Linked DNA regions of Homo sapiens: regions 1, 2, 4 and 5 are each reported to be linked to region 3. The links are microRNA targets in miRTarBase. Many come from high-throughput screens and were not tested one by one. Region 3 holds a microRNA gene; each other region holds the end of a gene's coding sequence.
The links. Region 3 holds the annotated microRNA hsa-miR-5582-5p (UAGGCACACUUAAAGUUAUAGC, at 2,316-2,337, shown strand). A microRNA usually pairs through its seed, bases 2 to 8, with sites in the 3' UTR of a target mRNA and lowers its output. Matches are read on the target gene's strand: a 7mer-m8 pairs with bases 2 to 8, a 7mer-A1 pairs with bases 2 to 7 and ends in A, and an 8mer does both.

Region 1: the mRNA of LTBP2 is a reported target of hsa-miR-5582-5p. Seed matches in the 3' UTR shown: 8mer at 3,523-3,530.
Region 2: the mRNA of FAM83H is a reported target of hsa-miR-5582-5p. Seed matches in the 3' UTR shown: 7mer-m8 at 4,355-4,361 and 7mer-m8 at 4,023-4,029.
Region 4: the mRNA of R3HDM2 is a reported target of hsa-miR-5582-5p. Seed matches in the 3' UTR shown: 7mer-m8 at 858-864.
Region 5: the mRNA of C7 is a reported target of hsa-miR-5582-5p. Seed matches in the 3' UTR shown: 7mer-m8 at 3,867-3,873 and 7mer-m8 at 2,281-2,287.

What each region holds. Positions count from the first base shown.
Region 1 is chr14:74,496,149-74,501,250 of GRCh38, forward strand. It overlaps LTBP2 (latent transforming growth factor beta binding protein 2), which reads right to left. Exons shown (of 36, transcript NM_000428.3): 36 at 2,035-4,881. The coding sequence ends at 4,736. ISCA2 (iron-sulfur cluster assembly 2) reads left to right here. Exons shown (of 4, transcript NM_194279.4): 4 at 1-958. Among named protein-coding and RNA genes, the nearest start is that of ISCA2, 4.9 kb to the left of the region's middle. RefSeq lists an enhancer at 3,956-4,951 and a silencer at 4,638-4,932.
Region 2 is chr8:143,721,253-143,726,353 of GRCh38, forward strand. FAM83H (family with sequence similarity 83 member H) reads right to left here. Exons shown (of 5, transcript NM_198488.5): 5 at 2,681-5,101. The coding sequence ends at 4,669. MAPK15 (mitogen-activated protein kinase 15) reads left to right here. Exons shown (of 14, transcript NM_139021.3): 11 at 1-159; 12 at 297-421; 13 at 500-628; 14 at 823-1,206. The coding sequence ends at 999. Among named protein-coding and RNA genes, the nearest start is that of MAPK15, 7.5 kb to the left of the region's middle. RefSeq lists an enhancer at 1,871-2,372.
Region 3 is chr11:46,750,405-46,755,507 of GRCh38, reverse strand. It overlaps MIR5582 (microRNA 5582), which reads left to right and starts at 2,316; the gene lies at 2,316-2,383. It overlaps CKAP5 (cytoskeleton associated protein 5), which reads left to right. Exons shown (of 44, transcript NM_001008938.4): 36 at 441-620; 37 at 2,011-2,198; 38 at 2,798-2,873; 39 at 3,974-4,162; 40 at 4,253-4,390; 41 at 4,897-4,980; 42 at 5,075-5,103.
Region 4 is chr12:57,249,984-57,255,086 of GRCh38, reverse strand. R3HDM2 (R3H domain containing 2) reads left to right here. Exons shown (of 24, transcript NM_001394031.1): 24 at 1-1,323. The coding sequence ends at 314. It overlaps STAC3 (SH3 and cysteine rich domain 3), which reads left to right and starts at 3,900. Exons shown (of 12, transcript NM_145064.3): 1 at 3,900-4,094.
Region 5 is chr5:40,981,029-40,986,125 of GRCh38, reverse strand. C7 (complement C7) reads right to left here. Exons shown (of 18, transcript NM_000587.4): 18 at 1,483-4,734. The coding sequence ends at 4,553. Among named protein-coding and RNA genes, the nearest start is that of C7, 74 kb to the right of the region's middle.

The sequences.
Region 1 (5,102 bases), not on the chromosome of region 3:
GAATGATTTATTAATACTGATGTTGGAGAAACTACAACCAAGTTGATTCTGGAAGAGTTACTGGTTAAATCCATCTTTTGCTTGGGAGCCTAGAAGTTTGTTACAGTAAAGACTTGCATTTCTGCACTGGATTGGAATTAAGGTCATTTAGTAAGAATTTACTATTTAAAAAAATGGAAATAGAGTTTAGAAAATATCTGAGACAGAAACTTAGATACATTTCCAACATGGCAAAACCTAGGACTTAGAGAAAACAAACCTATCATGCGGTTAGAGGAGAGAAGGGGACACTCAGAAACCTGAGCACATTTCTTAGAGCTGGTGGAAGGAGGCAGAAAGCAGCATACCATGGGAGCATCTGTGTGCACACATGACCAAGACAGTGCCGCCAGTACCTGCGCCTGATAGGGTTTCAGTTCAGACTACCTGTCCTTTCATCCTCCTTAAAAAGATTTTGCTACATTTTAAACATTAGAATATATTCTTTAAGAATATTTTTGTGGGTTATTTATTGATTTTGTGGTTTTAAAACTCTTGAGCACGAGCAGAACAGCTTTTGTTGCTAAATCAATCAAATTACAGTGGTGCACTAGACAGAAACAGTCCCTTAGAATGCAGCTTATATGTGAGTATCTACTGTTAATGGGAGAATTGGAATTTTATGTTTAGAAAAAGGCAGATTTGGGGCTGGGCACGGTGGCTCACGCCTGTGATCCCAGCACTTTGGGAGGCCAAAGCAGGCAGATCACCTGAGGTCAGGAGTTTGAGACCAGCCTGGGCAACATGGTGAAACCCCATCTCTACTAAAAATACAAAAATTAACTGCGTGGTGGACACCTGTAATCCCAGCTACTCGGGAGACTGAGGCAAGAGAATCACTTGAACCCAGGAGGTGGAGATTGCAGTGAGCCAAGATTGCACCACTGGACTCCAGCCTGGGTGGCAGAGTGAGACTCTGTCTCAAAAAAAAAAAAAAAAAAAAAAAAGGCGGATTTGGGAAAATCATGTTACTTCACACTGAGAAAGCTTCATTGGGAAACCAGAAGTGGCAGCAGGAAGTCTCCATTGGTGGAGACTTTATGTTGTTTTTCAAAGAGAAGGTCTCTTGGTCAATGCCCAGATCTTATTGTGGTACCATACTTGAGTTATGTGATGAGAGTGACCAAGGGTATGTAAATTATGTGTCCCATCCACTCTTAGTTTCTTTCTTTTTATTTGAGGCAGGGTCTCAATCTGTCTCCTAGGCTGGAGTGCAGAGGTGCAGCCTCTACCTCCCAGGCTCAAACAATCTTCCCACCTCAGCCCCTGCAAGTAGCTAGGACTACAGGTGCACACCACCAAGCCCAGCTACTTTTTGTATTTTTTGTAGAGATGGGGTTTCACCATGTTGCACAGGAGTCTCGAACTCCTGGGCTCAAGCAATCCTCCTGCCTCAGCCTCCCAAAGTGCCGGTATTACAGGCACGAGCCACCATGCCTGGCCCACCCATAGTTTCTTCGTATGGGAATGTTGAGTGATTACAAGGGATAGGAGGAAAGAAGTTGAGAAGTAAAAGATTAGGAAGGACTACTAAAGTAGGTGTTCAGGAAGAGACTCTTCTTTCTGTAACTTCTGAGAATCGAGCTCTGTTGTTTTGTCGTTTGTTATAAAGCATTAGAGTGCAGGGGTGGCATTTGGCAGGATCAACCTGGTATAGGGAAGTGGGCAGCACTGATCGTGGTGGTACAGCTCTCCCTTGAAATCTGGACCCAAGCTAATGTTGTGCAGCTGGCTTTGGGCAGGGCCTAACACTGTTCACTGCATGTTTTGTCTGAAAGGAAGGAATCTCTTCTATTTTTCTTCCTATCTAGCATTGATGTTTATGATCGTTCTTTTAAAATCCGTATTTTCCACTCTTCATAAAAATGCCACAGGGCTGCCTGACAAATTTGCATTAAGGAATTTTGACATAATTAGCACCTGGCTTTAGTTGTAAATTATAGTCAGATAAATATATAAAGAGAAGGAGCATTTAAGCAATCTTTGGCCAGCAACTGTATTTAAAAATATTTTATTTTTTTTGAATAGGTGATACATATGGTACAAAATTCAAAAAAATACAAAAGGAGATACAGTGAAAAGTCTCCCAATCCTGTACCTATCCACCCTGTCACCCTCCCCACAAACCACCATTGGTTCTAAGAATTTATCCTGCAGATGTAATCCCATAAATTAATGTGAAATATGCACAAGAATATTCATTACAGCATTATTTATAGCAAAAGACAGGAAACAATGGAAACGTCTGTCAGTGAGGGACTGATTAAATAAATTATGGTTTATCCATTCAATGGAATAGTATACAGCTGTAAAATGAAATGAGGCAGCTCTAATTGCAAGTATAAAAAAAAAGCAAAGTGCAGAACAGCATGCATAGTATGCTATTTGTATTTTAAACAAAGGAAATATGTATATATGCATACAATATCTCAAGGTTGGCAGGAAGGTGGAGATTGGAGTGTTGTGGGGGCAGTGGGAACAGCAGTTACGAAGGTGTAGTGCCAGCAGGATATATTTGGGGGATGGTAAGTTCTCCGATGGTGAGGTATAAGGCGGAGTGGCAAGGATGAGGTGAACAGACAACCGCTTCTCTTTCCCCATTCTTTAGACAAATAGTGTTATGTTACATGCTGTTATGCAACCCTCCCTTTTCCCCTTAATTTGTTTTGGATATCTTTCTTAAGGAATTTAGAGCCACCTTTTTTAAGGGTTCCATAGCAATTAATTGTTTCTAATCTTTAGCTATTACAAATGATGCAGTAATAACTTCTTACGTATGTCATTTTATATCTGGTGAAAATATATCTGAAGGTTAAGTTCCTAGAAGTGGAAACTACTGGATCAAAGAGTTAGTGCTTTTATAATTTTGAAGGACATTGCCATATTGTCCTCTTCAATATGTACTTCTGTCAGCTGTTATGAGAGTACCTATTTCCCACATGCTTGCCAGCTAGGAGTCTTAACAAGCTTTTTGATCTTTGCCAATCTGACAGTTTTAAAAAGGATCTCAGTATGGTTTTAAGTTGCATTTCTTTTATTATGAGTGAAAGAATATTTTTACATGCGTAAGAGTGACTTATTTTTGTCTGCTGAAAACATCTCAATTAGTATAGGGACCTAGAGCAAATTATTTAAGCTTTCTATGTCTCAGTTTCCTCACCTGTAAATTGAGAATAAACAATAGTAAGTAGGATTATTGGATAATTAAATGAAATGTATGTATGGCACTCAGCACAGTGCCTGGCACATGGCAAGCATTCAATAAGTTATGTGATGGCTAACAATCAGAGGAGCAGGTAGGACAGGGCAGATTAAATTAAGAAAGTAGCATTCACTTCCATGCTCCAGTCACATGGAGCCTTGTTCATTTACATTGCCATTCATCAGAGAAGTACGAAGTCAGAGCTTTCCTTGTCTTTTAATAGTAAAGAGTCATTTCCCATTGGAACCCATCATAGGCTATCAGCAGAGCTGGCCAGGGAGTAGGCACAGCCTCATCTCTAATATTTAGACTTAGCCAACATGGTAAAGAAATTTAATCTGATATGAAATAAAAACAACAGAAGAGACCAGATGCACATTTCTTTATTCCACCATGGTTCTGAACTCCCAGCTAGTTTGGGTTGGAGTGAGTCTCTGCTTGTAAACTCAGAGGAATGCCTGCCATCGTTTTCTGAAGGGAAAGGGCAGGGGTTTCTGAGTGGAGGGGAAAAACAACATTGGAAATCTGGCTGCTTCTGAACAAGACCACACTGGAAAATAGACTTTTTACTTTTAGCACATCAAACTGGTTTTCACAAAAGGAGATCCCAGAAGAGGTTTGTTTCCTGTAAGAAGCAGTGTTTATGTAATAGAGGTCTTTGTAGATGGGTGCTGTATCCCATGGCAGCCCTTGCTGCTGGTGCCCACAGGCTATCACTGGGCGGATTCAGCTACTGAATATTTTCTTTAGACGTATAAAGCCTTGGCTCCCCTTTCTCATCAACTCCACGTATTTTTCATCATGTCCTCTTGCTGCTTTCTCAGGCTCTTTGTTCTTCTTCATTTGTGTCTCTTACATTCAACAAGCTAATATCAGCCTTGCTTCTCTGAGTGAAGGGATCTTCTGCCACTCCTTGGGGTCAGAGAATGGGCTACAGGATGGAGGTGTGGCAAAATCAGGGCCCAGAACAGATTGGCTGAGTGGTGGTGATGGTTCTTAGGAGGGGGCTCTGGAGTCAGTCCCCAAGCTTCCCCAAATCCTTTCTTGCTCCACAGATTCTGAAGGACCTCCCTAGGGCAGATGTAGCCTCTGTCCCAGTTGTGGGATCGTCAGGATGATGGTGGATTGTGGCTGGAAAGGGGTGTCTGCAGTGTGAGGCCATGGGGCCTTGCATGCTCGCACAGCTTGGGAGGGTGGATGAGGGCCATCCTTTGGTAAGCATCCCATAGCAAGGCCAGGAAAGGTGGTGGACAGGGCCTCATGCGGTGGCTGAAGCATTAAAGCGATTGGTGGTGCTTGAGCCAAGCAAGGGCATGGAGGCAATGACCGAAGCTTACAGCCAGAGGCTAAGCTGGGAGAGATGAAAGCAGGCAAGGCTGATTGGAAACCTCTGGCCTGATGTCACGGTGTCTTCCCAGCTAGGAAATCATCCTCAAGGCCCCTGCCTGTGACTGGAGGCCATTTCCAGGTAGTTGCCACACTGACCCCTGACTGCTACTCCTTGGCAGTGCAGTGGGGGGGCCCTGCCTCAGCCACATATCCCGGGGAGCAGTGGCAGCGGTAGGAGCCCTCTGTGTTCTCGCAGTAACCATGGACACAGAGCACAGCAGGCCCGTTCAAGTCATCACACTCATTCACATCTAAGAGGAAACAAAGGAGAGTGCTGTAGGGAGCCCAGGTGCCTCTGCTGGCTGCCTCCACCTCTCTGGTTAGTAAGCCCTGGCCACTGCCCTAGAGTGAAACCCTAAGTGTGACAGCCAGAGGCTGAAGTCACTTCCCAAAACCAAGCAACTCAAGGACAAAGCAGGGGGCAGCAAGCTCATACCATGCCCAAGACCGTGCTCTCTTGTCCTTGTCTTTT
Region 2 (5,101 bases), not on the chromosome of region 3:
GCAGCGGCACCTCGAGAGAGAAGGGCCCGGAGGGTGTCTCCCCAAGCCAGGCACACCTGCACAAACCCAGAGCCGACCCTCAGCTGCCTTCTAGGACACCTGTGCAGGGTCCCAGACCCAGGCCCCAGAGCAGCCCAGGCCATGACCCTGCCGAGCACGGTGTGTGATCTTTGCTGGCCGCCCACGCGGAGCACGGCCCGGGCCCCTTCTGCCTGTGCTGCCAACTATGCGCAGCATTCGGTTCCTGACCCTGGGGTTGACCCACTGACCCCGGGGTTGACCCACTGACCCCACAGAGTCCCCCCGTGCAGCCAAGAACGTTCCCAGGCAGAACTCCGCTCCCCTGCTCCAAACTGCTCTCCTAGGGAATGGGGAAAGGCCCCCTGGGGCGAAGGAAGCGCCCCCCTTGACACTCTCGCTGGTAAGTCATGGTGGGGCGGGCACAGGAGGGACCCCTCCTCTGCACCTTTCAGTGACCCTGTGACATGGCCCTTCCCAGGTGAAGCCAAGCGGGAGGGGAGCTGCGCCCTCCCTGACCTCCCAGGCTGCGGCTCAGGTGGCCAACCAGGCCCTGATCCGGGGTGACTGGAACCGGGGCGGTGGGGTGAGGGTGGCCAGCGTACAACAGGTAAGCCCGGCCCAGTCTGCCCCCGTCCCCTCATCCTCCTTTCCCCTTTCCCCTTCCCCCCTGCTTTTCCCTCCCTTCCCCATGCTTCCCATTGCCCCTCCAATGTCCAGTTCAAATCTCTCGAGGACCTCAAGGCCTCCCCTCCACTGCACCCCCTCTGATGGCCCCTTTATGTGACCCTCAACTGTACACAGGTCCCTCCCCGGCTTCCTCCGGAGGCCCGGCCCGGCCGGAGGATGTTCAGCACCTCTGCCTTGCAGGGTGCCCAGGGGGGTGCCAGGGCTTTGCTTGGAGGCTACTCCCAAGCCTACGGGACTGTCTGCCACTCGGCACTGGGCCACCTGCCCCTGCTGGAGGGGCACCATGTGTGAGCCGCCCTACTCCCTTCACCTGGCCCTCTGTTCCTGCCCCAGCCCCTTCCCCAGACCCCTCTCCAGTCTCCTGCACCCCTTAGCCCTCCCTGCTTTGCCTGGCCCGTTGAAGTTCCAGGGAGCTTGCCCGGGTCTCCTCGGGGGAGCAGATGAGGGCCCTGCCCCCGCCCCACTGACTTCCTCCAATAAAGTCATGTCTGCCCCCAACCTAAGCAGCCATCGTTCCTCCCCTCCCCTCTGAGGTCACAGCATCCACTAGCTGGGGGCCCCGGCCCCTTTCCTGAAGCCTCCACTCCTCTGAGGACCCCACCCCACCCCCGTCCTGAAACCTCCACCCCAGAGCCCAGTGCCGCCCCCTAGAGGCCCTGCCCACTGCACATCCAGCACTGGGCTTTTCCCTCCAGGTTTGCCTGGGGCAGCTTCTTGTTCTTTGTCCATCATTTCCTTACCTGCTGTGGCTTCAGGGTCCAGGCTGCCCCCCAGGGTGGTCCTGTGGGGTAGGGATGTAGGGTCACCCCCTGGCCATGTTTGTGACTCTGAGCCAGAGGAGAGAAGGGGAGAGAGAAGGGGGACACCCCTCCCCCTGCTGTCAGGGACTGCAGCCTGCGCCCCCTAGTATGGCCACTGCACCTGATCTGTCTTCAGGTCTCCGTAGGTGAGGGTGGGAGACAGACATCTCGCGAGGTCAGGGTTACCTCCTCTTGTCACCCCCAGGCAAGGTCCCTGGTGTGAGTTCAGGCCAGGGCTGTGCAGGGCTGCAAAGATCAAAGGGGCCCTGTGGGCACAGACCTGTGTCCTAGGGTGCCAGGTGTCCTCAGCTGCACCTGCCCATGGGTTGGGGTTGGAACACAAGGAGGCAGCTGGAAAGCTCACAGGCTGGAGGAGCTCACAGTCTAAAGGGCGCGGCCTGTGCTGTCGGTGGCGGAGTTGGGCTGCCAGGCTCACAGTCTGGGAAGCTCATAGGCCGGAGGAGCTCACAGTTTGAAGGGTGCGGCCTGTGCTGTGGTCGGTGTTGGGCTGCCAGGAGAGGGGCGCTGCTGGGTTGTGGAAGCCATTGCCACCATGGGGGAGGGCGGGGAAGGACAAGATGTGGGTGGGGGAGCTGAGCAGAAGGTGAGAGCTGGCGCTGCCCTGGTGCTGGACCAGGCACCTGCAAGAGACTCAGAAAGGGAGGCTGGGTTTGGGAGAAGGTTGGAGGAGGCGGAGGAGGGATCGGGAGGGCCCGAGGAAGCGGTGAGCCAGTCAGAGACCCAGCCCAGGGGCTGTTTCCTGAGGGGGCTGCCGAGGGAGGTGCTTGTTGAGCTTCAAAAGCCCAAGGCGCAGGCCCAGGGTGCTGAACAAGCAGGACAGAGAGGCTGTGGGAGAGGAAGCTGCAGAGAGGCCACGGGGCTGCAGGGTTGGAGGCTTGGCCTCAGGCTGGGCAGTGTGTGGTGGGGCTGCTGAGTGGGGAATCGCAGGTGGGCACCCAGGAGTGTGCCTGCACAGGGGGCATCGGGGACAGGGACAGGAGAGCAGCGTGAAGTTGGGGAGGCCAAGGTGGGCCTTGGAAGTGGAGCTGGGGGGTCTTTAGTGCCCCCCACAGGGGTGGGTGGTGGGTCCACAGGGGAAATCTGGGAGGCCACGTGGTTAAAGGCTGCAGGATGTAACTGGGCGATTATACACACTGGGGAACATGCTAGAATACTTTGTGTGTTGTGTTTTATTAACACCAAAATGTGCCACATCATGGTTTAGAAGAGGTGGAGGGTGCAGGCAGGAGGCTCCGAAGGCCCAGGCAGGGCCGCCAGCCTCTGGCCTCTCCATGGACTCCAGCTGGAGAGCCTGTCCGCTCAGCAACACCCCAGGCAGCACCAAGAATAACATGCCCACAAGAACATCATGGCCAAGAGACGCACAGGCGCATCCCGCTTCCAGGCACCTTTCCCACCTGGCCAGAAGTCCCTGCTGTCATCCCGACTTGCACGGTGGTTTTGGTAACCAGTGGGCTGTGCAGGAGTGAAAGTGGGGTCACTTTCCTTCCTTTCCCAGCTGCTGGAGTCGGAACTGCTGCCTTTGTTTGGCGGCCTTGTTTCTTAAATCAGTTCCCTCTTAGGATTTATTACACTAAAAAAAAAATTAGTTTTTGAAAAGAAATAGGAGAATACAGAAACATGAATTTCACGAGGCTATCATCTAACAGTGGGGGCTTTCTACACACGTGGTGCCAAAATGTGTCATTCTGAGTCAATTGCAATTCCTCTCTAGGAGTGAAAAGAGATAAAAGATAAGCCAAGAACCCTGGACAGATTCTTGGTGTTGGTGACAAAGAGGAAAGGACCTGAGAATGGGGCTGGTGGGGAGAGGGGGGTGTCTGCTGGATACCAGGAGGACAAGGACCACTCCCACCTGCAGGGGTGCCCAGGACCTAGTTGGGCTCGGCCTCAGCTGCACCTTGTCCCCTGCCCTCACCTGGCCCCATACCTGTCAAGGATAAGCACTCCACAACCAGCCCTTCTAGCGCCTGGCTTGGGCCGGGCCTGTGCAGGGGGTGCTCATGAGGCCGGGGCCACAGGTTGTCTGGACCATGTTTTACTGTGCTGCAAAGGCCAATGCCCCCTCCCCACTCTCACCCAGTGCTGGCCAGAGCCTCGCTGGAGGAGATGGCAGACCTGGCCAAGGCGCCCCTTCGGGCTTCCCTGTGTCCCGTCCCCAGAGGCCTGCCCTGTCCAGCTTCCTTGCCACTCCAAGGGGCATCTTCTGGTCCAGCTCCCCCCCCCCTGCCCCACCCACCCCTTGCAAACTGCCCGCAGCCAGCCCAGTCTTCCCCACAGCAAGAGACGGGCCTCCAAAAAAGATGCTGGGAGGCAGCGAGCAGGAGAATCCAAGTAGGAAAGGAAGTGAAGCCCAGGCGGGGGAGGGGGGAGACGGGGGGGGGGGGGGGGGAGGGAAGGAGGAGACCTTGAGAGAGGGAGGGAGCGGGGAGGGGGGAGGCCCTGAGAACAGGAGGCCCTGAGGAGGAGAAGGGCCCAGAGAATGAGGAATTGAGGCACAGAGGCGAGACCCTTGCAAGAGGATAGGGGACTTAGCGGGGTGCAAGGCTCACGCCTGTAATCCCCCCACTTTGGGAGGCTGAAGCGGGCTGATCATTTGAGGCCAGGAGTTGGAGACCAGCCTGGCCAACATAGTGAAACCCTGTCTCTACTAAAAATACAAAAACTACCTGGGCGTGGTAGCATACATCTGTAATCCCAGCTACTCAGGAGGCTGAGGCAGGAGAATCGCTGGAACCCGGGAGGCAGAGGTTGCAGTGAGCCCAGACCGCTCAACTGCACTCCAGCCCTAGGTCTCAAAAAAATAAAGGGGGCGGGGGGGACTGAGGCACAAAGAGATGGCGGAGCCAGACGCTGCGCCACGCAAGGCTGACGGTGCAGAGATGAAGGTGCTGAGGGGAGAAAGGCACTGGTGGCGAGGGGTGCAGCCCCAGCGTTGGGGAGGCCAGGGGGCAGAGACGGCAGCTGCCAGGTGAGCCTCCAGTGGAGCCGAGGTCTGGCGCACTCAGCCAAGCCCCAAGCGGCCGTGGCCTGACAGCCGCTGCTCAAGCAGATGAGCAGGGCTCTCTGTTCCGCGGGGCTTCTGGATGACCGGGGCAGCGATGCGGGCACCCTGGCCTGGGTTGCCAGGCCAGAAGACTCACTTCTTGCTTTTGAACGTGCCCAGGATCTTGGGCACGAACTTGCCCACCTTGCTGTCCCTGGTGCCCTCCTCCGCGGGGCCTTCCCCTGCCCCAGGGCTGCTGGCCTCCTCTTTCTTGCAGAAGACCTCGAAGCGGCTGTACACGCGCTTCTCCTTGCGCATGCTCTCCATGCGGCGCAGCAGCCGATCGCGCTCCTCCGCGCTGGCTGGCAGCGTGCGGCTCAGCCGGCCCTGGGTCCCCAAGCTGTCCGAGCGGAAGATGGCTGAACACTTGTCCTTGTCGGACATATCTGGGGCCAGGACGCCAGCAGCCGGTGGACGGCCTAGCTCGGGGCTGTTGTGGGTCGGGCCGGGGCTCGGGGCAGGGACCGCACGGTGCTTCTGGCCGTGGGCACTGATCTGCTCCAGAATGGCCTTCGTGTCATCCCGA
Region 3 (5,103 bases):
GGGCCAGGTGCGGTGGCTCACGCCTGTAATCCCAGCACTTTGGGAAGCCAAGGTGGGTGGATCACGAGGTCAAGAGTTCGAGACCAGCCTGGCCAACATGGTGAAACCCCGTCTCTACTTAAAATACAAAAATTGGCGTGGTGGCAGGCGCCTGTAATCCTAGCTACTTAGGAGGCTGAGGCAGGAGAATCACTTGAAACCGGAAGGTGGAGGTTGCAGTGAGCCAAGATCGTGCCACTGCACACCAGCCTGGGTGAAAGCAAAATTCTCTCTCAAAATAATAAATGAATAAAATAAATAAGTAAATGGGCTTTTTTTTAAGGTAAGACTTTAGAAGTACTTTGCTAATAAATATTCTTATGGAGAAGTTTCATATAGTGTCTTCCGCTATTTTAGAAGTATGAAGCTTGGAAAATATATCTTGAAATTTTTGTTATCAGATCGATGAGGTCCTGAGACAGGAAGACAAAGCTGAAGCCATGTCCGGCCATATTGATCAGTTTCTGATAGCCACTTTTATGCAGCTAAGACTCATCTACAACACACACATGGCAGATGAGAAATTGGAGAAGGACGAGATCATCAAGTTGTATAGCTGTATCATTGGCAACATGATTTCGGTAAGGGCACCTCTGCAGAATTTCAGCTTCCCATCAATCTCTCAGCCTACAGAGGTTCAAAAGCCAGAGTCCATGCAGATGTTGCAGTGAGTCCTGTGTCACTTGGTAGAATTTTACATGCATTGTATATAGCAAGCTACTGATGGCTTCCATTGGATGTTTGGCTACACTCCATCCCACCTTACTGTTAGGATATAAAGTAACATGCTTACAGACTACCTAGCTTCTTCCGGCCAGTTTCTTCATCAGGCATGGTAGGCCATAGCTGCCTTTCCACAGATAAGTATGGTTCTATTAAAAATGCTAATTAGCCTGGTTTGATCAGTATACATTGTATACATGTGTTGAAATACCACTCTGTATTCCATAAATTTGTACAATTATTACATGTCAACTAAAAATAAAAGGGAAAAAATTTGTTAATGTTTTACCTGTAGAGCAGATTATAAGGATAATAAAGACATTCTCACTCAGATTTCAATATTCTTTCTTAAACTGGGGCTAAAAGGGTGGACTTAATGACACCAACTAGCCAGAAATTACAAATTTGGCATAACAGTAAATAATTTCACATGTAAAAACAAATACTTTGGCCAGGCACAGTGGCTCACACCTATAATCTCAGCACGTTGGGAGGCCAAGGCGGGTGGATCACAATGTCAGGAGTTCAAGATCAGCCTGGCCAAGATGGTGAAACCCCATCTCTACTAAAAATACAAAAAATTAGCCAGGCCTGGTGGCGGGCGCCTGTAATCCCAGCTACTCGGGAGGCTGAGGCAGAGAATTGCTTGAACCCAGGAGGCGGAGCTTTCAGTGAGCCGAGATCGTGCCACTGCACTCCAGTCTGGGCAACAGAGCAAGACTCTGTCTCAAAAAAAAAACAAAAAATTTCACAATTAGAAGCACACCGATTAATTTTGCCTATTACTAGAGGCTTGGGGGAGTGTGGTGATTTTGTTTTTTCTTTAATACTCTGAATTTTTACAAATATAACATAGCCGGGCGCGGTGGCTCACGCCTGTAATCCCAGCACTTCAGGAGGCCAAGGCAGGTGGATCACGAAGTCAGGAGATCGAGACCATCCTGGCTAACACGGTGAAACCCCATCTCTACTAAAAAAAAAAAATACAAAAATTAGCCCAGCGTGGTGGTGGGTGCCTGTAGTCCCAGCTACTCGGGAGACTGAGGCAGGAGAATGGCATGAACCGGGGAGGCAGAGCTTGCAGTAAGCCAAGATCACGCCACTGGCACTCCAGCCTGGGCGACAGAGGAGACTCCGTCTCAAAAAAAAAATACAACATAATTGAATATTTATCAGAATATGCCACCCACATTTCTTTACTCTCTATATTGAGTTTTACACCTCCCTGACACAAGTATGTCTGGATAGCTGTTTCAGATAGAGAGCCTTGCCCGGGAGGCCTCCACTGGAGTACTAAAAGACCTAATGCATGGCCTCATCACCTTAATGCTGGATTCTCGGATTGAAGATCTTGAGGAAGGACAACAGGTCATCCGCTCTGTGAACCTCTTGGTGGTGAAGGTTCTGGAGAAGTCAGACCAGACCAACATCCTGAGGTATATCTGTACTCTCAGCCAATAGAGCCTGGGGCATCCTCGCTTTTGTTTACACTTAGAAACCATAATGTCCGTAAGTCAACTTCCTAGGCAACCTAACAATCATAATCAACTTCCTAGGCACACTTAAAGTTATAGCTACATCAGTTATAACTATATCAGTTAAAACTTTAAGTGTGCCTAGGAAGTTGATTTATTACTCTTCTTCATCATGGACCAAAGGTATTTTAGCCTGAGACCATAGCTAAAACTAGTAAATACTTAGTTAGCCAGCCAATATCATGCATTTTCTATAATAGGACTGTAAAGTTTGTCAGTTACATTTTTCTTGTACATTTCAGGTACATTTTATTCTTTCTCAGCTACCAATGACAATGAAAAATAGAGTCACAAACCTTACACTTACCAAGTGGTGACTTAAAAGGCTTAAACAATGTTTATTTTCTTAACTGAATGTCAGGTAGTCCAGGACAATTCCTGATCCATGACCTCTCAGTTTATTAGATGAATAGAGTAATCTCACTTGCCCTTTCAACTGCTGATTCTAATTGGAATGCAGGTTTGAAACTTAATGCTGTTGTGTTGGGTTTTTCTTCCAGTGCCCTACTTGTTTTGCTCCAAGACAGCCTGCTAGCAACAGCCAGTTCTCCCAAATTCTCAGAGCTTGTTATGAAGGTGAAGTTGAAATGATTTGATCTCTTTTCTTTCAAAGATGCAATCACTTTGTTAAAAGTATGGGGAAAGAGGAATTGGAGCTAAGAAAGACATAGGCTCAAATCAACCAAGTCACACCTGAAAATATATTTTTCGTAATAAAAATATTAATAAATTTTTAAAAATTTAGCCAGGTGCAGTGGCATGCACCTATAGTAGCAGCTACTCAGGAGGCTGAGTTGAGGAGATTACTTGAACCCAGAAGTGAGCTTGATCATACCACTACACTCCAGCCTTGGCAACAGTGAGACCCCATCTCTTAAAAAATATATATATGGTTTTTTATATATATGTGTATTATATATATGTATATATGTATTATATATGTATATCTTAATATGTTATATATGTATATAATACACGTGTGTGTGTGTGTGTGTGTGTGTGTGTGTGTGTGTGTGTATATATATATATATATATATATATATATATATGAATTGGTCTTCAGTTTTTCCCTTCCTACAATTTATATTCTAAGTTCAGGCCTAAACAGTTCGTGGCCTCAAACAGTGAAAGGGAGGAAATATTTTGTAAATATTTTACTAATTCTCTGAGGATCAAAAGGAAAGAAGTTTGAAACAGATTTCATTTATTTTGGGGAAAAAGATATCTACAGCCCTATGATATTTGGTCTCTTTTGTGAAAGAGACCAAATGAACATATTTATAACATTGTAATACTGTTATTACACTGAATTAGTATCAGATATTTTGTCCCCTTGCATTAGATTTGGTTAAGCAACATGAACTACTTTACTCTCAGGAACGAAGGAAACCCAAGAGAGAATTTCTACCAGGTTAAATGATGGCCCCTAGCTCTGGGGAGTGGGAAGGAGTAGAGATGGATGATTAGATGAATGACTGGACACACTTCAGCTGGTGTCATGGTAGAAGTGATTAAAAATTTTCATGTTTTAGCAGCTGAACTTGAAAGATATGATGTGCCACATTTATAGCCCTGGCCATCTTTTAGAAGTGAGCTCAAAGCTTAGGGAAGATGAATGGTGACAAATTATCCTCATTCTTCAGTCACTCCTAACTCTTTTATTCTTTTTTCAATAGTGTCTCTGGAGAATGGTTCGACTGTTGCCTGATACCATCAATAGCATTAACCTAGACAGAATTCTTCTGGATATCCACATTTTCATGAAGGTCTTCCCCAAAGAGAAACTGAAGCAATGCAAAAGTGAATTTCCCATAAGGACCCTAAAGACCCTGCTACACACCTTATGCAAATTAAAAGGGCCCAAGGTGAGTAAGAATCGCAACTGGTCTCTGAGGGAGCTTGAGAGAAAATCATGGAAATGGCAGTGCTATCAGTCATGCATGTGTCTCCCTCAGATCCTGGACCACCTAACGATGATCGACAACAAAAACGAGTCTGAGCTGGAGGCCCATCTCTGCCGGATGATGAAGCACAGTATGGACCAGACTGGGAGCAAGTCTGATAAGGAAACAGAAAAGGGAGCATCTCGAATAGTGAGTGGCCTGACTTGAAAGATTGAGGGACATGAGGCTACACCGGAAGTGATCTTATCTAAGGTGTAGGTCACCAGGATATGCTTTCCGAAGGTCCAAGGTGAAGGCTCATGGACTGGTTGAATCAGTCTCCTGCTGTGGTGCAGTAACCATTTCCACCTTGAAATTTTAAAATCTAAACTAAGTATAACCATGTGTTTTTTGGTCCCCAAGAAAGATGCCTAAGGCATTGGTCACCAGATAAATAGCTAGTTCTGCTTAACATGGAAAGAATATGTCAGTTCCTTCTCCATCAAGTTGAGGTGGAAATCTGAGACTGGAGGCATTCAGTAACACAGAATGTTAGTGCTTCTGCTGCAAGACCTGCATCATCGGTGCATCTGTTATCTGTAGGAACATACCAATAAGGCCCAGATTTTGAGATATTTTCTGTTCATATCCAACCATCAGTTCCTAATTAATAACTCAAGTCTAACCAATTCTTCCTATGTCTTTCAACTTTTCAGGATGAAAAATCATCAAAGGCCAAAGTGAATGATTTCTTAGCTGAGATTTTTAAGAAGATTGGCTCTAAAGAAAACACTAAAGAGGTGAGAGTGAAAGGGTTAAGCAGAATAGGGGTCTGCTTTATGGTAAAGGGACACTAACATTCATCCCCACCTCTTCCCTTTTCCTGTTCACCAGGGACTAGCAGAGTTATATGAATATAAGAA
Region 4 (5,103 bases), not on the chromosome of region 3:
ATCTCCCTGAGGGCATCACCCGTACTGAGGCGGACAAACTCTTCACGCAGCTCGCCATGTCTGGCGCCAAGATCCAGTGGCTCAAGGATGCTCAGGGGCTGCCTGGAGGGGGTGGGGGGGACAACAGTGGGACTGCTGAGAATGGCCGCCACTCGGACCTCGCTGCCTTGTACACCATTGTGGCTGTGTTCCCCAGCCCCCTGGCTGCCCAAAATGCCTCCCTTCGTCTCAACAACTCCGTGAGTCGCTTCAAACTTCGAATGGCCAAAAAGAACTATGACCTGAGGATCCTGGAGCGAGCCAGCTCCCAATAAATGGAGGAGGGGAAAGGGACTGTCACAGAAGGAGCAAGGGCAGGGTGGAGGGGGTTGAAGGATCCTGACAGACCATGGACAGAGGCAGGAAGTAAGGAAACTGATGTTAAACTGGAACCTAAGACAGTGATGAAGATGGAAACACAGATACCTACACTGGCATTGGACTCCTTCTTGCTCCCCTGCCATGGGTCCTCTCTTTTTCCCTGGTTGACCCCCCTTGCATCACTCTTCTTCCCATCCTCTTCTTTTTTTTTTTTTTTTTTTTTTTGAGACGGAGTTTCGCTCTTGTCACCCCAGCTGGAGTGCAGTAGCACGATCTTGGCTAACTGCAACCTCCAGCTCCTGGGTTCAGGTGATTCTCCTGCCTCAGCCTCCCAAGTAGCTGGCACTACAGACACGCGCCACCATGCCCGGCTAATTTTTGTATTTTTAGTAGAGACGGAGTTTCACCATGTTGGCCAGGCTGGCCTCAAACTCCTGACCTCAGGTGATCCACCTGCCTTGGCCTTCCAGAGTGCTGGGATTACAGGCGTGAGCCACTGTGCCTGGCTTCCATCCTCTTCTATCATTTTTTTAAATCTCTTCTCCTATCATAAAATTAATTTCTCATTTTTTGGTCAGGTAGAATTGGGAAAGTCCCACACTGTCCTCCTATTACCTTAACATCCCAAGCTTCCTTTCCTTTTTTGGTCTTTATGAATATATTTATATGGACAGAATTAAGATAAACAAAATTGATTGCCCCATTCTCTCACTTCCCCATCTTGTCTTCCTAGACCCCACAGAGTTAAAACTTGGGATTCCCCTGGCCCCCCCAGAACACTTGTATATTGTTTGTTTGAGGTTCGTGCCGCAGTAACAGACACAGTATTTAATTGCACATACAGATGTTTGCTGGGTATATTCACTGTAAATTTTATTTAATCTGTTTTTTTGTTTGTTTGGGGGTTATTTGGGGGGAGGTTGGTTTTGTTTTTAAATATAAAAAAAAAAATCTGTCACTGGACATCAGTCACTGTTTCTCTGTTGCCGCCCTGGTATGGGTAAAGGGTTGGAGGCCCTGGGTAGGTATAGCCCTACAGCTGTTGGAGGTGTTTGTCGTGGGTTGGGATGGCTTTCTCTAGCATACGCACACTATTTTAACACCATTCCCTCTGTCTCATCCTCTTCCCTGTACACGGTTCTGATAGATGGCTAGATCTCTAATGGGACCATGGCTTTGGGCTCTCCCGGTTCTGCCACTGTGGTTCATCGAGCATATCACTTCTCAACTCTGGATCTGTGTCCAGATCAGTAAAATAAGAGACTTGGACTTAGTAGGTGACCTCTAGGTTTCCTTCCAGACTATTAATTCTGTGGTACTGTGTACTCATTTAGGGCCCTTGTAGTTGAGTTTTGAGATAGGGTCTTGCTCTGTCACCCAGGCTGGAGTGCAGTGGCAGATCTCAGCTGACTGCAGCCGCCTCCCGTGTTCAAGCGATTCTTGTGCCTCAGTCTCCCGAGTAGCTGGGATTACAGGCGCGATCTAGCATGCCTGGCTAATCTTTTTTTTTTTTTTTTTTGCTATTTTTGGCAGAGACAGGGTTTTACCATGTTGCCCAGGCTGGTCTTGAACTCCTGGGCTCAAGTGATCTCCCGCCTTGGCCTCCTAAAGTGCTGGGATTACAGGCATGAGCCACCACTCCCAGCCCAGCTCGTCTTCTGAAAACCCTTTAGGGATGGAGAACTTGGGCCTTTCTTTTTTTTTTTTTTTTGAGATGGAGTCTCGCCCTGTTGCCCAGGCTGGAGTGCAGTGGCGCGATATCTCGGCTCACTGCAACCTCCACCTCCCGAGTTCAAGCAGTTCTCCTGCCTCAGCCTCCTGAGTAGCTGTGCCCCATCGTGCCCAGCTAATTTTTGTATTTTTAGTTGACATGGGGTTTCACCATGTTGGCCAGGCTGGTCTCGAACTCCTGACCTTGTGATCCACCCGCCTCGGCCTTCCAAAGTGCTGTGATTACAGGCGTGAGCCACCGTGCCTGGCTGCCTTTCTTTAATCCTAAAGCTGGAGGATTGGGTTTTACCTGTCAGGGACAGAAGCAGATTTTTATTACAATGAAAGCTACAGCAACTGAACTCGCAGTGCCAAGATGCTGTATTATCCAAACATGCTCAGCAGTCCCTGTCCTATGTGGCTGAAAAAAGACGAAGAGCAGAAGTCATCTTGCCTGCAAGATGGAGCTTTTCCTTTAGAGCATCTCAAAGCAAGCCCTGTTGTTCTGCAGCCTGTCAGAGCAGGGCCATTAAAGAACCTGCAGAGTCAGAACCATCCTGCACCCCCTTTTCAAACTCCCCCCTTAAATAGAAAAAAGTAGTGGGTGAGAATGACAAAGCACGTTGCCCTGGAAATCTCTTGGGTCCAAGTAGCTGTATCCCTAACGACGATCCTACAGGAGCTTGCCTGACCCAGTCTCCAACACAGTCCTTTATTTCTTACAGATACAAGGAATAGAGCAGCACTGCATTGCCACCTCTAAATTGCTCTCCCCTGAGATGGGAGTATCTCCTCTTTCATCCATGTCACAGCCCAAAGAGTAGAAGGGTGCACCCCTGTGAGATGAGAATGGCATCTGTCTCTTTGATCCATCAGTTATATACTGAGGCATCAAAGGTGGGAGATGGAATCAGGGAATCAAAAGGGTTTAGGAAGTGTGAGGGTTGGCCATCCTACCTTTAAGAGTTTGCAGTTCTCATGAGGAAGGGGACATTACTTAGAAATGATTTAAAAAATTCCTTATGTGGCAGCTATATGCTTCTGTCCAGTGTTAACTGGCCCTTTTTAATAGCCCTGGTAATTCCCTTCAGTCTGAGGACAAAATTTTACAAGAAGGAGGGTGGGGAGATGTCTCTGGGAGCTGCTGGAGGGAATGAAGCAATACTACATATTCTTCACTTTCTTACAGGATAGCAAAGTACTCCTCCAACCACCTACAGATAAAAAGCAATCTAGCCATGCACGGTGGCTCACACCTGTAATCCTAGCACTTTGGGAGGCCAAGGCAGGCGGATCACCTGAGGTCAGGGGTTCGAGACCAGCCTGGCCAACATGGTGAAACCCCATCTGTACTAAAAATACAAAAATTACCTTGGCGTGGTGGTGGGCGCCTGTAATCCCAGCTACTTAGGAGGCTGAGGCAGGAGAATCGCTTGAACCTGGGAGGTTGCAGTGAGCCCGGATCGCTTCATTGCACTCCAGCCTGGGCAACAAGAGCAAGACTCTGTCTCAAAAAAAAAAAAAAAAAAGCCATCTAGTATGGCTGATAGGAGAGCTCTATGAGTTCAAATTAGTCTTTTTTTACCCTGTCTCAAAAAATAAATGAAAAATAAAAATAAACTCCCCTTAAATGTTAAATGAGCATGAACAGAAACTGTCCCTTCCTGAATTCAGCCATTATTCACCTGTTCGCCTTAGATGAAGAATCAAGGAACAGCAGCTCTAGGGGGTTGGGAGGAGTTAGGGTCCGGCCCTGCCCCAGACCTCTCAGTGTCCAATTTCTCTGTGTCAGCTGTGTTTCTCAGCTGTCCACTTTCCTCCAGCCCTGTCATTTCAGCCCTGACACCAAGGCAGGAGGCTAGGAGGTCTACAAATAGCGACTGGGTAGCTGGTGTGAACACAGGGGGTACTGGGGGGGCTTAGCCCCCAAGGAAGAGGACCAGTTTTTCCCCAGCACCACCATCAAGGCCTCGAGGCTCCCAGCTCCCTCTACAGCCTGTGGACTGACTTAGGGAATCCCGAACGTAAGTTACCTCTTCATCCTCTTGATTTCCACGACTGCTCACCCCAGCTGCCCTGATCTATAATCTACTCAGCTTCTTCATTTCTCTCCTTGTCTGTGAGTCTTTTGGGTTTTAGGCGTAAAATTATTATTCTACTCTAGGATGAGTTTGGATTGAAGCGGGGGGTGGGGGTGGGGGTGGGGTGAAGGGAATGAAGTAGTAAGGGAAGGAAAGGCTCATATTACCCTGAAAACTTAAAATAGCTGAGCCCTGAGGCAGGCTGGGACAGAACTAGGCACAGGGCCCCCAGGGCTCAAGAAAAAAGTAGGGGAGGACAAATGTCTCCAGTCCATCCTTCCTTGTGTGCACACGAGGACACACATTAAACCTCTTGAAGAGAGGAGATCTGGGAAGGTATGCATCACATCTCTGTTGCCCACAGATTTCCAGGAGAAACAAAGTACCTATAGGAAAATGACGTAAACCACGCAGCTTTGAACACTGTGTAAGGGCTGTAAACTATGGGGTCGCCCCTCAGGATGGAAGGATGAGTATCAGTTTGAGGAACTAATTGGGAAGCTCTTTAGTCTGTTGGGCTTTTTTTTTTTTTTTTTTTTTTTTTTTGAGACGAAGTCTTGCTCTGTCACCCAGGCTGGAGGGCAGTGGCACAATCCCGGCTCACTGCAACCTCCGCCTCCCGGGTTCAAGCGATTATCCTTCCTCAGCTTCCTGAGTGGATGGGATTACAGGCGTCCGCCACCACACCCGGCTAATTTTTATATATTTAGTAGAGATGGGGTTTCACCATGTTGGCCAGGCTAGTCTTGAACTCCTGATCTCTAGTGATCCGCCTGCCTCAGCCTCCCAAAGTGCTGGGATTACAGGCATGCACCACCACACCCGGCCATGTTAAGCTTTTTTCTAGACCTCCATGAAATCTGTTAATAAAACCTGCCAAAGGATCTGTATTTGGCCCAGTGCAGTGGCTCACGCCTGTCTCAACAATTTGGGAGGTTGAAACAGGAAGATT
Region 5 (5,097 bases), not on the chromosome of region 3:
TAGACCCTCAAGCCAACATCGCATGTGCTTCGTTTTTCAGTCAATGTTTCTCTGTCTTGGACATCATTGATCTGCCGTATAACTAAGTCCCCTTCCCTGGAATTCAGTGCAAGTCTCCTCTCATAGAGATGCATGGAAATAACAGTGATAACAGAGCAGTTCCTATGTTTGTCTTTTCACAGGAAATTGTCCTCAGCCTATGAATTGAAAAGAACATTTTCATGTTTTCTTCTCTTGCCCACCTTCTCACCTCCAGCCCACCCCTTTCAAACAACGGCAGTCTTTCCATCTGGTCTTGTTAACCCCTGGCTGAGGAAGCAAATTTTTCTATGTGATTGATATCTTGAATGTAAATCTAGAGCTTTGCCTTCACAGCCTGACAGGAATAAATAAAAAGACAAATTGTAGGTGCTTTGGTTGTCACAGCAGGGGCTCCTATCATGGCATCAGCTTTCTCGTCCACAAATGTGTGAATGGCCTGAAAGTCCAAGGTAATTGAAAGGCAGGCATAAACCTGTTTTCTCAGACATTAATGGAAATTGCCTCCTACTGATGTCGCTTTTCTGGCTTAGTGTTCTGAGAAAGAAACAAGCCATTCTGTTTCTAACACAAGTATTGAGTACGCTTTAACTAGTCCATCAAGGAAGAAAAATCTCAGTGGACTGGTATGGCTACTCAGTTCTGCCAATCCCATACTAAGAATGGCCCAATTTATCTCTCTCTTTCTATCTCTCCTGCCTCCCCTTTTCTTTTCTCTTCTCTTCTTTGTCTATCCGCTCTACTTCAGAGAAGAGAAAGAGAAGTATTGGATACCCCTGAATACCCACTTCATCTTGTGCCCAAAGTATGCAATATCTTAAGTTTTCTTCAAGTTTATGATGATGACCACTTCCACTAGCTATTATGCTGTGAAAATAATCCAAATGCCTGTGGTGGGTGAGTATGTGTGTATAAGTGAGTAAGTTTGTGTGTATTATGTGTGAGTATGTGTGTATTATCTCCAAATAATCCAAATGCCTGTGGTGGGTGAGTATGTGTGTATAAGAAATGTGAATAGGAACATAAAGAAAATACAGAATAATGATAAACCATGGTGCCGTGGTTTGCATGTGTTTCCCAAAGTTCATGTGTTGGAAACTTAACCTCCAATGCACGTGTTGGGAGGCAAGCCTTCATAAGAAGTGATTAGGACATGAGGTCTCTGCTGCTATGAATGGATTGTGTTGTTGTAACGGGAATGGGTTAGTTATCATGAGGGTGCTTTTGTTATAAAAACGAGTTCAGCCCCTGCTTCCTCTTGCTCTCTCTTGCCCTTCCACGTTTTGCCATAGGATGATGCAGCATGAAGGCCCTGCCAGATGCCAGCACCATGCTCATGGACTTCCCAGCCTTCAGAACCAGCAGCCAAATAAATTTATGCTCATTATAAATTACCCAGTTGGTGATATTCTGTTATAACAGCATAAAACAGACTGAGACAGGACGGGTTCAAAAAATATTGATTAATACACATACCTTGACCGAAAGAAAAAGTGATTACTAATTGGACACATAAGTGGACACATAATAAGCCGGGCACATAAATGGACACATACTAGGCTGTTTCAGGGAATGCTGTATAAACCAGCTGCTCAGCACTTGCAGCTCTTAGCAGTTACAAAACAACTAGATGGTTCACAAGACTCATGTGAAGCTGAGATTAGCCATGATCTGCCCAGCAAAGAGGGCAACCCTCAATCAGATTAGCCAGTTACCTGGCTAGTTGCTAGGTAATCCAAAGTTCCGGGGGTCACTTGTCAGATTTCCTGCTTGGCACTCCACATCCCTACCATACCCTACCTGAATACGAAGAACCCTCCTTCTCTTTCAAGGTGATTACAAGTCATCCTGCACTGGGAAAGAAGGTTACATTAATAACAGTTTGAATGGGGCTCATTAAATCTCAGGGCTTAGAGAAGCAGCACTACTTTTGATCAATTAGGAAATACATAAGATGTCACAGGAAGGCACTTCTCAAAACGATTAGGAAATATTCTCAGGCACCTTCTCTGCCCAGGTAACTTGTAGCGTCCTCATGAGTGGTAAGCGATGATCTGTAGGATGTGCCTTGGCCTCCACATAGCTCCCTGAAGCTAGTGATGATTAATGCACCAGCCAATTTCCTTCTCTTTGTCTGTTCCTTCTGAGGGCCAAATGACTCTAATCTCAGCAATGCTTTCTGCCCTCTGCCTCCTCCAAGGCTCTATCCCCTTCTAACCCAGATGACCCTCACCTGATCTGAGGCACAGGAAAGGGCAGGAAGATGGAATTCTCACAGTCTTTATTCTTTTTCCATTTATTTTTGTGGTATAAAATCATTCCCTTAACTTTCCTCAAAGCCTCTCCATAGGTGTTCAAGAACTTATTTTGGAAGTTTCAAAACATTTTTAAAAATTTAATCTTAAAAATGACTTTCTCCTTGCTGACCTGCTGCGACAATCCTAATTCTCCACAGGCAATTGTGAATGCCTCTGTTGGACTAGAGGAAAGGTCAGCACAAGAATGTTCAGAAAAGAAAAGGAGGAAAAAAATACAGTATTTCAAGACAACACCTCTTCACGACAACATTCACTGCTCCTCTCCTTCTCCTCTCCTTGACTTCTCCTTCAATAACTCTGCTGAAATTCCTTTCTCAAACCTCTTAGTTACATCTACTCATTTCCTTTCTTTCAAACCTCAATCTCTGATGATATGTGATAATGCTGACCATATCCTCTGTATTATTTAGGAAGGGGGCATGGTGATACATAAGCGGTAGGAATCTAACTCCATACTAGCTTAAGCTAAGAGGAGAAATTATTGGAAGGATACTGAGGTATTTCCTTCCAAATGAATTACTTGTTCAACCTTTTGTCTCAGGGTCTGCATCCAGGCCTAGCATGTTCAAATGTGTCCTCCCATCCAGGGTAGAAATTAACTCTGTAATAACCGCTAACAAATGCAGTTGCAATGTCTGAATGTCATTGTTTTTAACCAATTGAAACCTGCCTCCTTGTAACTTCAACATATTATATCTGCATCTTCCCTTAGGGCACACTTTGATACAAAAAGCTAGATCTGGATCAGACATAAAACTTCAGGCAAGAACACATTAACCATTCATCATGAAAATCTTCTCTAAAATGAAACATCATACAAATGAAACAATTCTGAAGAATAGCATCTTTAATGAGTGTTCTAATCCTTGTCATCTGAAGTTTTGAAATATATTTACCAGGGTCAGAACAATACAGAGATAGTATTTGTATAATATAGCTTATTTTAAATTTCATTTAAGCCCTCTCATTTCTCCTCCCACAGCTGCTGTTTTGTTTTGATGAAAGAGAAATAAGGAATAAATAAAAGGTCAATGCTTCAAACTAATCTACCTGTGTACTCCCTGAAAACTCTGGGACTGTATCCACAGAATAGGGAAAACTATTCTCAAATGCACAGTCACTCATGCCTCAGGCATGAACTGATGTTCTTTCAAAAGAAAAAAGAACAGGGGCAAACTTCCAGTCCTATGTTTGACACATACTAAAACCCCAAAGAGAAGACTGAATTGTATTTGTTCTCAGACAAGACACCCCTGTGACCACAGCATAATGAATTCTGCTCTAACATTTTAGTGGTTCAATCTCCCGACAAGAGTAAGTATTCCAGCCAGGCGTGGTGGTTCATGTCTGTAATCCCAGCACTTTGGGAGGCCAAGGCAGGCGGATTACCTGAGGTCAGGAGTTGGAGACGAGCGTGGCCAACATGGTGAAACCCCATCTCTACTAAAAATGCAAAAATTAGCTGGGCGTGGTGGCGGGCACCTGTAATCCCAGCTGCTTGGGAAGCTGAGGCACAAGAATCGCTTGAACCCAGGAGGCGGAGGTTGCAGGGAGATGAGATCACCCCACTGCGCTCCAGCCTGGGCAACAAAGTGAGACTCTGTCTTAAAAAAATTAAAAAAAGAATAAGGAATTCCTATCTGTGGTGGTTGACTCTATAGGATGAAGTGTGAGATTACTACTCAGGATAGAAATAGTTTGTATCTGTCATTTTTGTTCAAGTCCTCTTTATATTTGGTTCCATTGAGGAAAACCACCCTCTCTAATCAGGAGATCACGTTCTTTCTGTTATCCTAGTCATTTTGTAGAGTGTGTTCTGGCCCATGGGCTGTGTCAATCATACTTAATAAAATGATAGGCCTGAATGGAGCATTCAAGTTTCTCTAGTGCAATCCTCTAATTTTACAGATTTTAAAAAACCAAGGCCCAGAGAAGGTAACACCTATTTCAAGAACACGCAGCCAGCCTGTGCAAAGGCTCATATCCTTACTGACATTAAAAAGGAGGCAAAAGAGTAATTCGATTCAGATTTGGGAGAACAAAGGATTGTGTTTATACAGATGGCTGGGAGTTGAGGAGGAAGGTAGACACTGGAGAAGAAGGAAAAGCTGTCCAGTGCCCAGTTGTGCAGATGTTTTCACTCAGCCCCAGCTGCCTGCTGGATTCCAAGCAAGCTGACCAGGGCCTCCAGGAGCCTACTGGGTTTCCGCAGCACAAGGCCTTATGCTGGTGACAGAGATGCTCTGCCCTCTGCATCTCAGAGCGCCCGCCTCACACTCAGACATCGTCTGCTCCTTGCCGTTCACTTCCACACAAATGCTAAACCCTTCTTCCTCGCACTCCGATGCTTCTCGGCAGACACATTTGCTGCTCTCAGCTGGAAAAGTAAGTGAAAGAGGCTTAATGGTACATTGTGGAGGTCGGGGAGTCAAAGAACATCACCTCCAAAGTAATAATGTGGTGATCAGAGCTGTAGAAGCTCCTGCCTGGAATGACATAATAAATTATCCCCTGGAAAAGCAGTAGGACCAGGAAATTGGGGCATTTTGCTCCACTCCAAAGAAATAGGTTTTGAGGTTGGTAGCAGGCTTTATATTGGTTAGACCACATGGGGTGGTTTTATCCAAGTCAAGAGCTCTTCAACTATCTCCTACATACATGCTGCTGTCCATATAAGCCAGCAACTGAGGTCAAATGAGAAGCCCTCAACAAAGAACCAAGTCAAGACTCAAACAAAGAG